Linked DNA regions of Homo sapiens: all the other regions are reported to be linked to region 2. The links are microRNA targets in miRTarBase. Many come from high-throughput screens and were not tested one by one. Region 2 holds a microRNA gene; each other region holds the end of a gene's coding sequence. Distances are from middle to middle.

What was found. Region 2 holds the annotated microRNA hsa-miR-5010-5p (AGGGGGAUGGCAGAGCAAAAUU, at 1,117-1,138, opposite strand). A microRNA usually pairs through its seed, bases 2 to 8, with sites in the 3' UTR of a target mRNA and lowers its output. Matches are read on the target gene's strand: a 7mer-m8 pairs with bases 2 to 8, a 7mer-A1 pairs with bases 2 to 7 and ends in A, and an 8mer does both.
Region 1: miRTarBase lists NCR3LG1 as a target of hsa-miR-5010-5p. The part of its 3' UTR that is shown has no 7-base or 8-base seed match.
Region 3: miRTarBase lists UBTF as a target of hsa-miR-5010-5p. Seed matches in the 3' UTR shown: 7mer-A1 at 865-871, 7mer-A1 at 897-903 and 7mer-A1 at 2,087-2,093.

What each region holds. Positions count from the first base shown.
Region 1 is chr11:17,372,081-17,376,080 of GRCh38, reverse strand. It overlaps NCR3LG1 (natural killer cell cytotoxicity receptor 3 ligand 1), which reads right to left. Exons shown (of 5, transcript NM_001202439.3): 5 at 1-4,000. The coding sequence ends at 3,569. Among named protein-coding and RNA genes, the nearest start is that of KCNJ11, 15 kb to the left of the region's middle.
Region 2 is chr17:42,511,346-42,515,345 of GRCh38, reverse strand. MIR5010 (microRNA 5010) reads right to left here and starts at 1,158; the gene lies at 1,039-1,158. It overlaps ATP6V0A1 (ATPase H+ transporting V0 subunit a1), which reads right to left. Exons shown (of 22, transcript NM_001130021.3): 20 at 1,368-1,485; 21 at 886-1,057.
Region 3 is chr17:44,204,035-44,208,034 of GRCh38, reverse strand. It overlaps UBTF (upstream binding transcription factor), which reads left to right. Exons shown (of 21, transcript NM_014233.4): 18 at 124-171; 19 at 265-336; 20 at 438-581; 21 at 668-2,995. The coding sequence ends at 793. The region is part of intron 1 of ATXN7L3-AS1 (ATXN7L3 antisense RNA 1); the gene reads right to left. It overlaps MIR6782 (microRNA 6782), which reads left to right and starts at 196; the gene lies at 196-264. RefSeq lists an enhancer at 572-1,072.

The DNA of each region.
Region 1 (4,000 bases), not on the chromosome of region 2:
GGTTTCACGAGTATTAACAACCTATTTGACCATTTTTAGTAGATTTTCTCCTGAGAACAATCTTTGGATGCACTGATGTCTTATGCTTTCCTAAGTGAAAGGCTCAGTGGAGGATTTTAAGAATCTTCCATTGGCTGGAGGCTGGCAAGCGTACTTTGCAATCTTCTGATTGTAACCATCCTGAGGGTTGAAAAGTATACCTCGAGAGGTGGCCCATTCTATCTCTGTAGGGGAATACTGAGGCTTTATTTCCCTTATGTAGCCCTCCCAAATCAGAGGGGCCTCAAGTGTTTTGGGACCTTGGGGCCTTCTTACTGCTGACTTAGCTCTTTGGTCTGCTAGCCTGTTTCCTTTCGCTATTTCATCTACCCGCTTCTGATGCCCTCTGCAATGTCTGACCACTAATTCTCATGGGAGGAACACTGAGGATAATAGCCTGTTGATGTCTTGATGGTATTTAATGCAAGACCCATTAGCGGTGAGGAAGTGCCTTTCCTTTCAGATGGCAGCATGGGCAAGGAGAACTAGAAAGGTACACTTGGAGTCAGTATAAATGTTAGCTGTCTTTCCTTTGCTTAGTTCAAGTGCTCTTGTGAGAGGGATCAGCTCAACTGATTGAGTGTGTGTGCCTGGTGAGAGAGGCACATTTTCAATGTTATTTAGGGTGACTACTGCATATCCCACTTTTCAGACTCCCTGTCCTACAAAAGAGCTCCCATCCATAAAGTGGGTCCAGTCTGGATTTTCTAGGGGAATTTCTTTGAGATCCTCCCTAGCGGCATAGGTTGTACTACAGTCTGTTCACAATTATGTTCAGTTTCTCCAGTTTCCTCTGGGAGGAAAGTGTCTGGGATCAGGCAAGGTCAGGTTTTTAACTGGACTGCAGATTCCTCTAGCAGCAAAGTCTGATACTTGAGGAGGCAGCTGTCTGTTAGCCAGAGACTCGCTTTAGAGGACAGCAAGCCTGCCACATTATTTATGTGAGGCATAAACAGGTTATTCCCCAGGGTTAACTTGGTGGCCTCTGGGACTAGCAGGGCCACTACTGTAACTGCTCAGAGGCAAGCTGGCCATCCTTTAGCCTCCAAGTCAAGCTCTCTACTTAAGTAACCTACTGGCTGTTGAGCTGGGCCTTGAACTTGAATTAAAACTCCCAGGGTCATTCCTTTCCTTTATGATACATAAAGATTAAAGGACTTCCCTACAGAAAGACTGGGGGCTGGTGCTTTAAGCAAGGCTTGTTTTAACTGATTAATGGCCTTTTGACCTTCAGGTTCCCAGGTCAGGAAGTGAGTTTTAGCCACTTGAATTTCTTTTATAAGGTGATATAAAGGGCAACCTATTTTATCATACCTGGGTATCTATAACCTACAAAAACCTGTAATGCCCAAGCATCCCTCAGCTGCTTGAGGGTTCTGGGGAGAGGAAGGGAGGAAATGGGATTAATCCTCTCCTCGCCTAGTGCTCTTGTTCCCTTCTGACAAGACCAGACCTAGGTACTTTACCAAAGTCTGATAGAGCTGAGCCTTAGATTTTGAAGCCTTATATCCCTTTCCAGCTAGGAAATTAAGGAGAGCCTCAGTGCCGTCTCAAGAAACTTCCTCAGTTGGGGCACAGAGGAGAATGTCATCTACATATTGTAAAACTTTAACCTGAGAATGGAAGAATTCGAAGAGATCTCTTGACAATACTTGCCCAAATAGGTGGGGGCTATCTCTAAATCCCTGAGGCAGTACAGTCCAGGTTAACTGGGTGGTTTGATTGGAGGGGTCTTCAAAGGTAAACAAGTATTGGGAGTCAGGGTATAAAGGTATACAGAAAAAGGCATCCTTTAGGCCCAGAACTGTGAACCATTTAGTTCCCTTGGATATTTGAGTTAGCAAAGTATAGGGACTGGGATCTACTGGATGAATCGTAATCACAGCCTCATGAATAAGGCAGAGGTCCTGAACTAGTCTCCCTTCCCCATTGGATTTTTGCACCCCTAATATTGGGGTGTTTCAAGGGCTACTGCAAGGCCTAAGGAGGCCTTGTGCCTTTAGGTTATCAATGCTGGCGTCTAGCCCTTTTCTACTTTCTGGCTTCAGAGGGTATTGTCTCTGGTTAGGAAAAAAAGTGGGATCCTTGAGGTGGATCCAGACTGGTATAGTGGTTATAGTCCGGCCACTTCTTCCCTGAGTTGCCCAAACCTCTGGGTTAATACTGGTTTCCACTAAGGGGAGGCGGAGTTTGTCCTGGAGCCATAAGGATGGTGGCCCCCATACGTGCTGGAATATCTCTATCTAATAAAGGAGTGGGACTTTCAGGCATGACTAAAAAGGCCTGTGTAAACAGTAGGTCCCTCTGACTGCAACTAATAGGTTGAGAAAAATATCAAGTTAAAGTCTTTCCTGAGATGCCCATCATGGTTGTGCTATGGGAGGAACGAAGGCCTGAATTGGAGAGGAAAACAGAAGCCTGGCTCCAGTGTCCAGAAAGAAGTCTACCTTCCTCCCTTCGAACTCCAGAATCACCTGGTGCTCCCGGGTAGTAACAGCAGTCTGAGCCACTGGAGCCAGGGAGTTGAGCCCCAGGACCCATCAGTCCTGCTGGACCATTTGTGAGACTGGCTCTGGACTCAGTGACCTATGCTTCCCAGGACAGTCTGCCTTCCAGTGGTCCCCATTGTATACTGGACAGGGTTGAGGTGGCTTCTTCTTGCTGCCTGGGCAGTCCCTTTTGAAGTGCCCTAGTTTGCCACATTGGTAGCAACTAGCAGGTGTACCTTGGGGATACTGGGTTTTATACAAAGTGGCCACCAGAGTCTCTGCCTTTTTCTTGTGTTTCCTCTCCTTCCCCTGGGCCTCCTCCTGGTCCCTATTATAAAAGACCGAGGTGGCTACCTTCAGGAGGTTTTGTAAGGTGCTATCTAATCCCATGGCCTGTTTCTCTAGCTTCCTTCTGATATCAGGGGCTGTCTGAGTAATAAACTTGTCTTTCAAAATTAGCTGTCCCTCAATTGAATTATTTATGTGAGGTATAAACATACCTAACAGGAGACAAGGAAGTGTGTTTCACTACAGCCTCTCTCAGCCTTTCCAAAAAGGCTGAGGGATTTTCATCTAGTTTTTGATCTATCATGGAGAGTTTGGGGTAATTAAGAGGCTTGGCTCTGGTCCTCTGTAGGCCCTCTAATAAGCACATTTGAAAATGTTTTCTTTGCCACTCATCTAAGGTACCACTGGGGTCCGAATTATGTTGTTCAAGGGGCACTGCCTCGCTTCCTATTGGGTATGTGAATGCTGGTTGTTTCTCACCTTCTTTCCTTATTGAGTGGCTATAGAAGACATGTTGTTCATCTCTGAATTTTTCTGCTGCCTGCAGGGCTACCTGTTTCTCTGTAGTAGTTAAGAGTTTAAGAGCAACATAACATCACCCCAAGTAAGGTCAAACACCTGAGTTAGGTTTTGGAAAGCCTCTATATATCTATCAGGTCATCAGAGAACTTGCCCAGGTCCCCTCTTATTTGCCCAAGGTCCTGTAATGAAAAGGGAACTTGGACCCTAGTGGCACCAGGTCCATCAGGCATTTACTGTAGGGGTAACAGTAAAGTTGGGGGTTGGGAGGATAGAACTGGAGTTGTTGATGTTGTGGCTGGAGGAGGTTCCCAGATAGGGGAGACAGGAAGGATTGGGGCATCCGGAACTGCATCCGAGTGTTCCCTAGGGGTTTGTTTCTCAGACTTTGTGGAATTATCATCTATGGACTTGCCTGATGTAACTGTTAGGAGAGCAGGGTCAATTCTACAACACTGACAAAGATCTGGGTTGTCTCGCAAGGCAAAGAAGGCTTGCACATAAGGAACCTCGGACCATTTGCCCTCCTGTCTGCAGAAAACATCTAGTTGTTGAATAGTATTAATATTAACACTTCCCTCAGGAGGCCAAGCCTCCCCATCCTGCAGCTGGTAAGACGGCCATGCCCGAGTGCAAAAGAATATGAGGTGCTCTTTCTTCAGAGT
Region 2 (4,000 bases):
ACAGGCACGTGCCACCACACCTGGCTAATTTTTGTATATTTAGTAGAGACGGGGTTTTACCATGTTGGCCAGGCTGGTCTCGAATTCCTGACCTCAGGTGATTCACCTGCCTTAGCCTCCCAAAGTGCTAGGATTACAGGCATGAGCCACCGTGCCCAGCCAAACTGTACTTTTATGTGCTACATCTGGCAACGCTGGTTTGAGGTGGTCACAGCCCAGACCACACCCCCGCTCTCCCAGTCCCAGAGGCTGAACTCATGCTCTCTCCACACACAGCCATTAAGAGTCACAAGCTTCATTAAAGAAAACAAACAGAACCACCCCAAACCTGCCCATGTGAAGAAGCTGCGTGAGTGTACCGACCTCCACCCTATAGAGCCAGGAATCCCTCCGGTCCACAATGGAGCTGCCAGGGGTCCAACTCAAAGACCCCTGGCACAATGACAGAACAAAGAGGATAAAGCTGGGGTGCAGCGTGTTCTAGCCTTTCCTGCACTTAACATACATTCCAGAGCTGCTTCCACTGTTCTGAAGACAGAAGAGTTACACATCAGAGAGAAAACCAGAAACCCTAAGACCCCAGCAGCCCCTTTAAGCCAAAATCAGGAGCACTGGGGACAGCTAAAGGCAGGGAGCGGGACCTGACACCACTCACCAGGGACATCTCCCTAGAGCCTAGGGAAGGCTGAGCTGTGCTTTTCTGTGACCATTTTCCGAAACTCTGTGGCAATGCCGGTGCTGGGGTGTCCTGAGGTGAAGCTAGTGCAGGGCCAGCTCATCTTTCCTGCACAGAGCTGCAGGGCTGTGTGTGGGAGAAAAGCTGCCCTCTCACCGCAGCTAAGGACACATCCACCCCCATGCCCGCCCTGCCCCACTGCCCCTCACCAGTGTAAGCGCAGTGCGTGGAGAAAGGCCGAGAGGCCCTCCATGATCAGGAGGATGGCCACGGTCAGGGTGGCAAAGGCAGTGAAGAAGAAGAACAGCACCAAACCTCCCGCCAAGCTCTTCACGCTCAGGCCGATGTGGATCACCATGGTCCAAAGCACCTCAGACAGCTCTGGGGAATGGGAGACACAAAATCCAGTGCAGTTTGGCAAGAGGCAGCTGTAGGCCATGAATTTTGCTCTGCCATCCCCCTGCTCTAGGGTTCCCTGGATCCTGGCTTCCCACTGCCTTAGTGGGACCACCATGCAGAGCTAACCTGGCACAAGTGCTGAGCCTCCTGTCTGTACTCATTCTCCTTGGGTTCAGGAACCTGAATAATTCCAGAACCTTCATGTAATTTCCATTTGACTTAAGCCCCCCAACTGACAGTGCGCCCACAGAGGGGGAAACTAGAGTTCCGGAGCCCGGAGAGAGGTACTCACGCGCATGAGCGAGGCTGAGGGCCCAGAGCCGCAAGTAGGAGGCAGTGTTGGAGATGCAGCCCAGGCAGTACTCGATGGTGTGGATGGCCTGGTGGACCATGGTGTCCCCAAAGTCAAACTGTCGTGGGAGGAAACCAGAGAGAAGATATAAGGCTAGGAGGGGAACGTGCAGGCATTCTGAGTTGTGGCTACTTGGCGCTTTGAACCTGGGCCAGGGCAGGGGACTGCACTTCCCATGGATGGCACCTCAACTCTGGAGGGGCCAGAAGCACCCAGTGTTGAGCTCAGGTGGTGATTTCGGCAATGCCTTCCCCAAAAATCCTGCCTGACTTAGCCCTCACCTGGGACACCTCCATTCCCCTCAATACATTACATTTTAATTAACTACATCTTAATAAGATTCTTTTCAACACATTTGTTCTTCTCCCTCTGGGGCTCTGTGCTCAAGAGAGGAGTGTGTGCTGAGTTGACGGCACTCTGTTGAGAAAGTGACTGTCTGGGTCTGGGACCCTAAGGACCTGCAGGAGGGCAGGAAGGGATTTTCCCCAGAGTGCGCTTCAGGAGACAGACTCTCAACCCGGACACTGTCCTGAGAAGACTAGGCCTCTATGGCCACTTTACTTATTCTTTTTACAGCCTTTTGGGAGCAAGATAACCTTCTTTTTCTTTTGTGACTTCTAAAGAGATTACACGGTGAATTTTTTTTTCCCTACATGATTTCACCACCATGCACAGGGAAATCCTGACAAAGTTTACAAATTTCCACATGGGTTAAGGCCAAACAGCATATCTGTTTGGGTTAAGACTAAATAGCATATCTCCAGTTTCTTGTTTGTTTTCGTTTTCCTCAAGCTCCCTTTGTCCCAGTTTTCCTTTCAATACCAAGAATTATTTCCAGAATAAAGGAATGGGCTGGAACAAGCTCTTGGGAGTGAACTTTCAGGTTTGCTCCAAGCACAGTCAGGGGTGAATGTGGGCTTCTGAATTTGGTATATTCTGGAAGCCCCAGGTACTTTCCCTGGGCCTCTCTGTCAAGCTGACCAAAGACCAGGAGGCGCTCCCTTATGGGGCTTCCCCCCGCAGAGCCCAGACCAGAATCTTCTGAGCTTTCAGACACTCCTGAGGGCTCAGTGGCCTCCCCATCGGCCCCTGCCCTCAGGTCAGGGTCTATTTTTCACCGCAGTTCCTTTCAAAACCCACGTGATTCCACTCCCAAAGGACACCAGAAATGCCTTGGGAAATCACTGAGAACATGGGGATGGGAGAAAGTGGCTTGGCTGGTAAAGCCACAACAGCCCAGGCCACAGGGGTGCAGCCAGCGTGGAGGGGGCTGGCTCCACCATGCCATCTCTGGGCGAACGTCTGCTTCTCCCTCACCTCTGTCGACACCTAGCCTATTTCTGGGCTTTTCTTCCGGAACAGGCTCTTCAAGCTTCCTTACTTACCCTGAAAACTAGGGTAATCCTAGTTCCCTGAGTTCCCTAAATCCCAACACCGTGGTTAAGAGCTCTTTCCTACCACTGCTGGCTGCCGCCCCAGGGCCCGCATTGAGAGGAAGAAGTCCATGGCTCCCAGGAGTGCTGATCTCTACTCCTATGGGCTGGGAGGGCAGTGACCACTGGGCTCCCTTACAGCCAATCCCTTCAGTGTTTTTATTCTACCTCAAGTTTCTCCCACCGAATAAACTGCAGGACAGGAGAGAAGCCTCGCTTCCAGGCCTTACCCTTGCCTTCTCTCCTTCATTCCCAGCTTCCTGCAGGTGTTCTCAGGAGAAGCAAGGACTGGGTGAGAAATCCAGCTCAGCACTTATGAGTCTGCCACTCAGCACACGCCCGTATCAATCGGCCATGACCAACCATGAATCGCTGCAGAGTCCCTGTCCACATCTTCTGCCTCAGTTTCCTCTCTGCCCAGCCAGTCCTCACCCTACTGCACCCTGGCTTCCACCTTCACTCCTCCACAAAATGCCTCTACTTAGTAAGGTCACCCTAACCTCCCAGTTGTTACTTTTTTTTTTGAGACGGAGTTTCACTTGTCACCCAGGCTAGAGTGCAGTGGTGCGATCTCAGCTCACTGCAACCTCTGCCTCCCGGGTTCAAGCAATTCTCCTGCCTCAGCCTCCTCAGTAGCTGGGATTACAGGCACGCACCACCACACCCGGCTAATTTTTTAGTAAAGATGGGATTTCACCATGTTGGCCAGGCTGGTCTCAAACTCCTGACTTCAGGTGATCCACCCACCTTGGCCTCCCAAAGTGCTGGGGATTACAGGCGTGAGCCCCCGCGCCTGGCCCAGCTGTTAAAGCTAACAGATGTTCTGTGCCCTTGTCCATGCTCCTGCAGTGTCTGTCACCATAGCCTCTTCCTCCTTTTTGAAATACCTGCCATCCCTTGGTTTTCCTCCTACCTCTCTGGACAGTTCTTTTTAGTCTCCATCGAGGTTCTTCCTTTTTTTTTTCTTTTTTCAAGACAGGAGTGCAGTGGCACGATCTCAGCTCACCACAACCTCTGCCTCCCAGGAGAATCAAGTGATTCTCCTCTCTCAGCCTCCCGAGTAGCTGGGATTACAGGCACATGCCACTACCGCCCAGCTAATTTATGTATTTTTAGTAGAGACGGGGTTTCACCACGTTG
Region 3 (4,000 bases), 1.7 Mb from region 2:
CTGGGAGGGGTAAGATGGGGTGATGATATATAAATGCTCAGCCCACTGCCTAGCACTGGGCCAGCATGCTCAGTCAGCAGTAGTTGGCTATGTTCCAACCCTTGCCGCTTCTGTCTCCCCCAGAGCCTGTCTCCCCAGGACCGTGCAGCATATAAAGAGTACATCTCCAATGTGAGTCTGGGAGCAGAGCAGCAGTGGGGTAGGGGTGGGGGAATTCAGGGGTGTCGAACTCATGGCTGCCACCTTTGTGTCCCCATCCTGCAGAAACGTAAGAGCATGACCAAGCTGCGAGGCCCAAACCCCAAATCCAGCCGGACTACTCTGCAGTCCAAGTCGGTAAGGAGCCCCTCCCAGATGCAGGGGCGTGGGGCGGGGGGCACTGCCTGGAATGGTTGGGCAGAGACCAGAGACCACTGATGTGCCTCCATCCCTCCAAGGAGTCCGAGGAGGATGATGAAGAGGATGAGGATGACGAGGACGAGGATGAAGAAGAGGAAGATGATGAGAATGGGGACTCCTCTGAAGATGGCGGCGACTCCTCTGAGTCCAGCAGCGAGGACGAGAGCGAGGATGGGGATGAGGTGGGGCAGACAGGGCACAGTGGGAGGGGAGGGGAGTCCTGCCAGGAGGGCCACCTGGTGACTCCACATCCTTTCTCACCCCCCAGAATGAAGAGGATGACGAGGACGAAGACGACGACGAGGATGACGATGAGGATGAAGATAATGAGTCCGAGGGCAGCAGCTCCAGCTCCTCCTCCTCAGGGGACTCCTCAGACTCTGACTCCAACTGAGGCTCAGCCCCACCCCAGGGCAGCCAGGGAGAGCCCAGGAGCTCCCCTCCCCAACTGACCACCTTTGTTTCTCCCCCATGTTCTGTCCCTTGCCCCCCTGGCCTCCCCCACTTTCTTTCTTTCTTTAAAAAAAAAAAAAAATACGGTGGGGGTAGGGGGCTGGAGGAGCCCAGGCCAGGACTCTGCAGCCTCAGAGACATCAGCCCTTGGGGGTCCTCCTCCAGGGACAGCAACTATCAGACTAAGCCAGCACCGGACCAGCCTGGCCCACCCCACCCACTTCTGCACTTGCGGTTCCGGCATGGACAATGGACCGGAGAGTGGGGGTGGGGGGTCCCAAAGAGTTTGATGAGGCCCTCCACACCTGCGGCCCAATCCAAGGTGGGGTGGAAGCTTGGGGAAGACCCATTCCTTCCCAGAGGGGCCTGCCACCTGGACCCCTGCATTGGAACTGGAGGCAGGGAACATGGGGAGGAGGAGGGTCGGTGCCTTCAAGAAAACAGGCACTGCCCTGGTGGCCCTCTCCCCTGCCCCCTGCAGGAAGGAGCTGCCTGGACCCGTTCATGGGGGAGGGGGCAGAAGTGTTTTTTATATATGTGTATATATTTTTTTTTAAGCTCTGAGCTGTCAACGAGACGTTTCCTACCGATCTCGGCTGCCGTCTCTGTTGTCATTTCTGGGAGAGGGAGGGTTTAGGGGTAGATTTGGAACCTTTTAAAAATGGTCTTGATGTATGTGGAAGAGAGTATGTGTATGTGTGTTCCTGTACATAGCATGGGTGCAGCTGTGGATGTGTGCAAAAGAGTGTGAGTGTGTGTGTGTGTGTGTAAAGGGGTCTGTCCTAGAGCCCACATCAGTTTGTTGTGAATCTGGAAAAAGGGTCGGTGAGGGCCGGGAGATGTTGACCCTGGTGGGAGCAGGCTGAGGCTGCCCCGTTCTCCACATCCTCTGTTTTGCCCAGTCTCTGATTCCATTAGGGGGAGTGTGCTGAAGCCATTCTCGGATGCTTCCCAGACCAGGCTCCCTCTGCCAGAGTCACATGCATCCGAGCTGCTGGTCTCCATTGTCCAGCAGGAAGGCGGAAAGGCAGGCAAGATGGTGTGAAGCTTAAAGCTTGTATTTGATGGAAAAGGTCTCCCCTGTTCATCTGAGAGGCCAAGCCTGGCCACCCCAGGCTCAGAACCTGGGCTTCAAGAAATGTGCTGGGAGCTCCTAACTTACACATCCCTCCAGCCTTCCTTGAATCCTCCCACCACCCCCTATTTCCTTTAATTTCTCAGGTCTGCTCCCTCCTCCCCCAACCCCACAGCTGGGCAAGAAGTCTGCAAAAGCTGCATCTGCAGCTGTCTCTAACTCTTCCCAGCCATCTCCCGTATTTTTTGGTACCTTGATTCCTTGACTCTTAATAAGCCAAGCCACCTTATCTCTGTAGTTCTTATTTTTTTGTTGACTAAATTTGGGGGGTTCTTTTTTATGGTCATGTCACTGACCTATTAAATTGGGGCTTGGTGCTTTTCCACCTTCCCCCTCTGAATGAAAGCCAAGGAATGGGGGAAGAGCGGGAACTCTGCCGCGGAGGTGGAGCAAGAACGGTGAAGGGCCCTGGTCCCAGAGAGGCTGGTGGGTCCCTCTCCCAAAGGAAGGCAGACAGTCTCTGCTTTGCCTTGGACCTTGGTGCTGGGGGTGGGGAGGCCTGGGGGGGACACTCCCCACTCCCATTCCCCTTCCTTTGTCCTAATCCTGGAATTAAGTACAGGGGTTTATAGGTTCTATTTCTTCCCAAGAGCCCTGCAAAGAACCCCAGTTTCCTATTTGGATGCCCCTACACTGTTGTGTTTCAGTGGAATGTATTTTCATTTAAAAACAACTTTGAATGGGGCACTTTTTCTTTCCTGTTTTAAAAATTGAAAAATTCTTACAGTACAAACAGGACTGTCAGGGTGGGGGTGTTGGTGCTGTAAGAGGTCACTCTTGAGTGCATTTTGGCACTGGGATGGGATGGCTGGGGTGGGAAGACCCCCATCCCCACCCCCAACTTCTTTTCTAATATTTAAGGAGTGTTTTGTAGGATTCAACAACCACCACAACTTGAATTTGTATCATGGGAGGTGGGAGGGAGTGGCTTAGAGGTGTCTGCCTATGCTTAAAGCCAACTGTGGAAGTTTTGTTTTCCCTTTTTTGTATAATAAAGTGAAAAACAAAGGTTTGACTGCTGTCTGGTCACTGGAATCAATGAAGGTTCACAGGGGTGACCCAACAGGTTTGATCTATAAAAATGCTTGAAGCCAATTTGCCTTTTCTTCCTAGAACTATCTTCCTCTTCCCTAAAGATTCCATAGGCAACCTACCTTCACATTGTTCTGTGCTACTGTTCTTGCCCTTTTCTCAATTCCATTTGTTCACCTTGGGTTGTGAGACCACTAAAGATTCTGAGAAGTTGGAGAACAAATGCATTTTCACCCAAAGTACATGGTCTTGGGGAATTGGAGGTGATGAGCTACTAGGGTCAAGGGTTCGCCCTGGGCATGCAAGCCTTCCTAGTGTAGGGCTTATCGTGGGGAGTTGAGGGAGCACGCTCTCACTTTGAGCCTTCAGCTCCATCCCAGGTTAAAGGTTAAGGGTTAAGGATGACTTTCCTAGGACCATCTAGGCCTCTGATGGGAAGCAGGCTGGGCTGGGCTGAGATGACTCACTCTCTGAGATTAAGGGAAGACACCCTTTCCTGCGCAGGCCTTGGCTGGGTTCCTGGAACCTCAAAGGGCTGCAGACCCAGGTCCTGTCGGAGAACTCTCTCCCAGCCCTTGCCCCTATCCTATAGTGGCCAAACTGCTAAAAAGCTTGTTGTGCCTCTTGGCCTCCCACTTACCACCATCCTTTGAGGTTCCTTGCTAAGGTCACCAACATGTTCATTACATCTGGTGAACACTTGTCTTGTCTTTTGCCTTCTTGGTCTACTCTGTTGGTGTCAGCTCTTCCTCATTTTATCCCAGGTGTTCATGTCTCTCCCTTCAACCTCCCATTATCACGCATATGCAACCATTCCGAAAGGTGGTGCCGACAGAGACTGCTCTTCCAAGCTGCAGACCTGTGTAGACACCCTTGCATCCCCTGGGATATCTTGCAGACATCTCATACCTCAAGACCCGAAATGATTACCAAACACTTAGTCGTTCAACCTAGAAAGCAGAGTATTGGCCTTGACTCCTC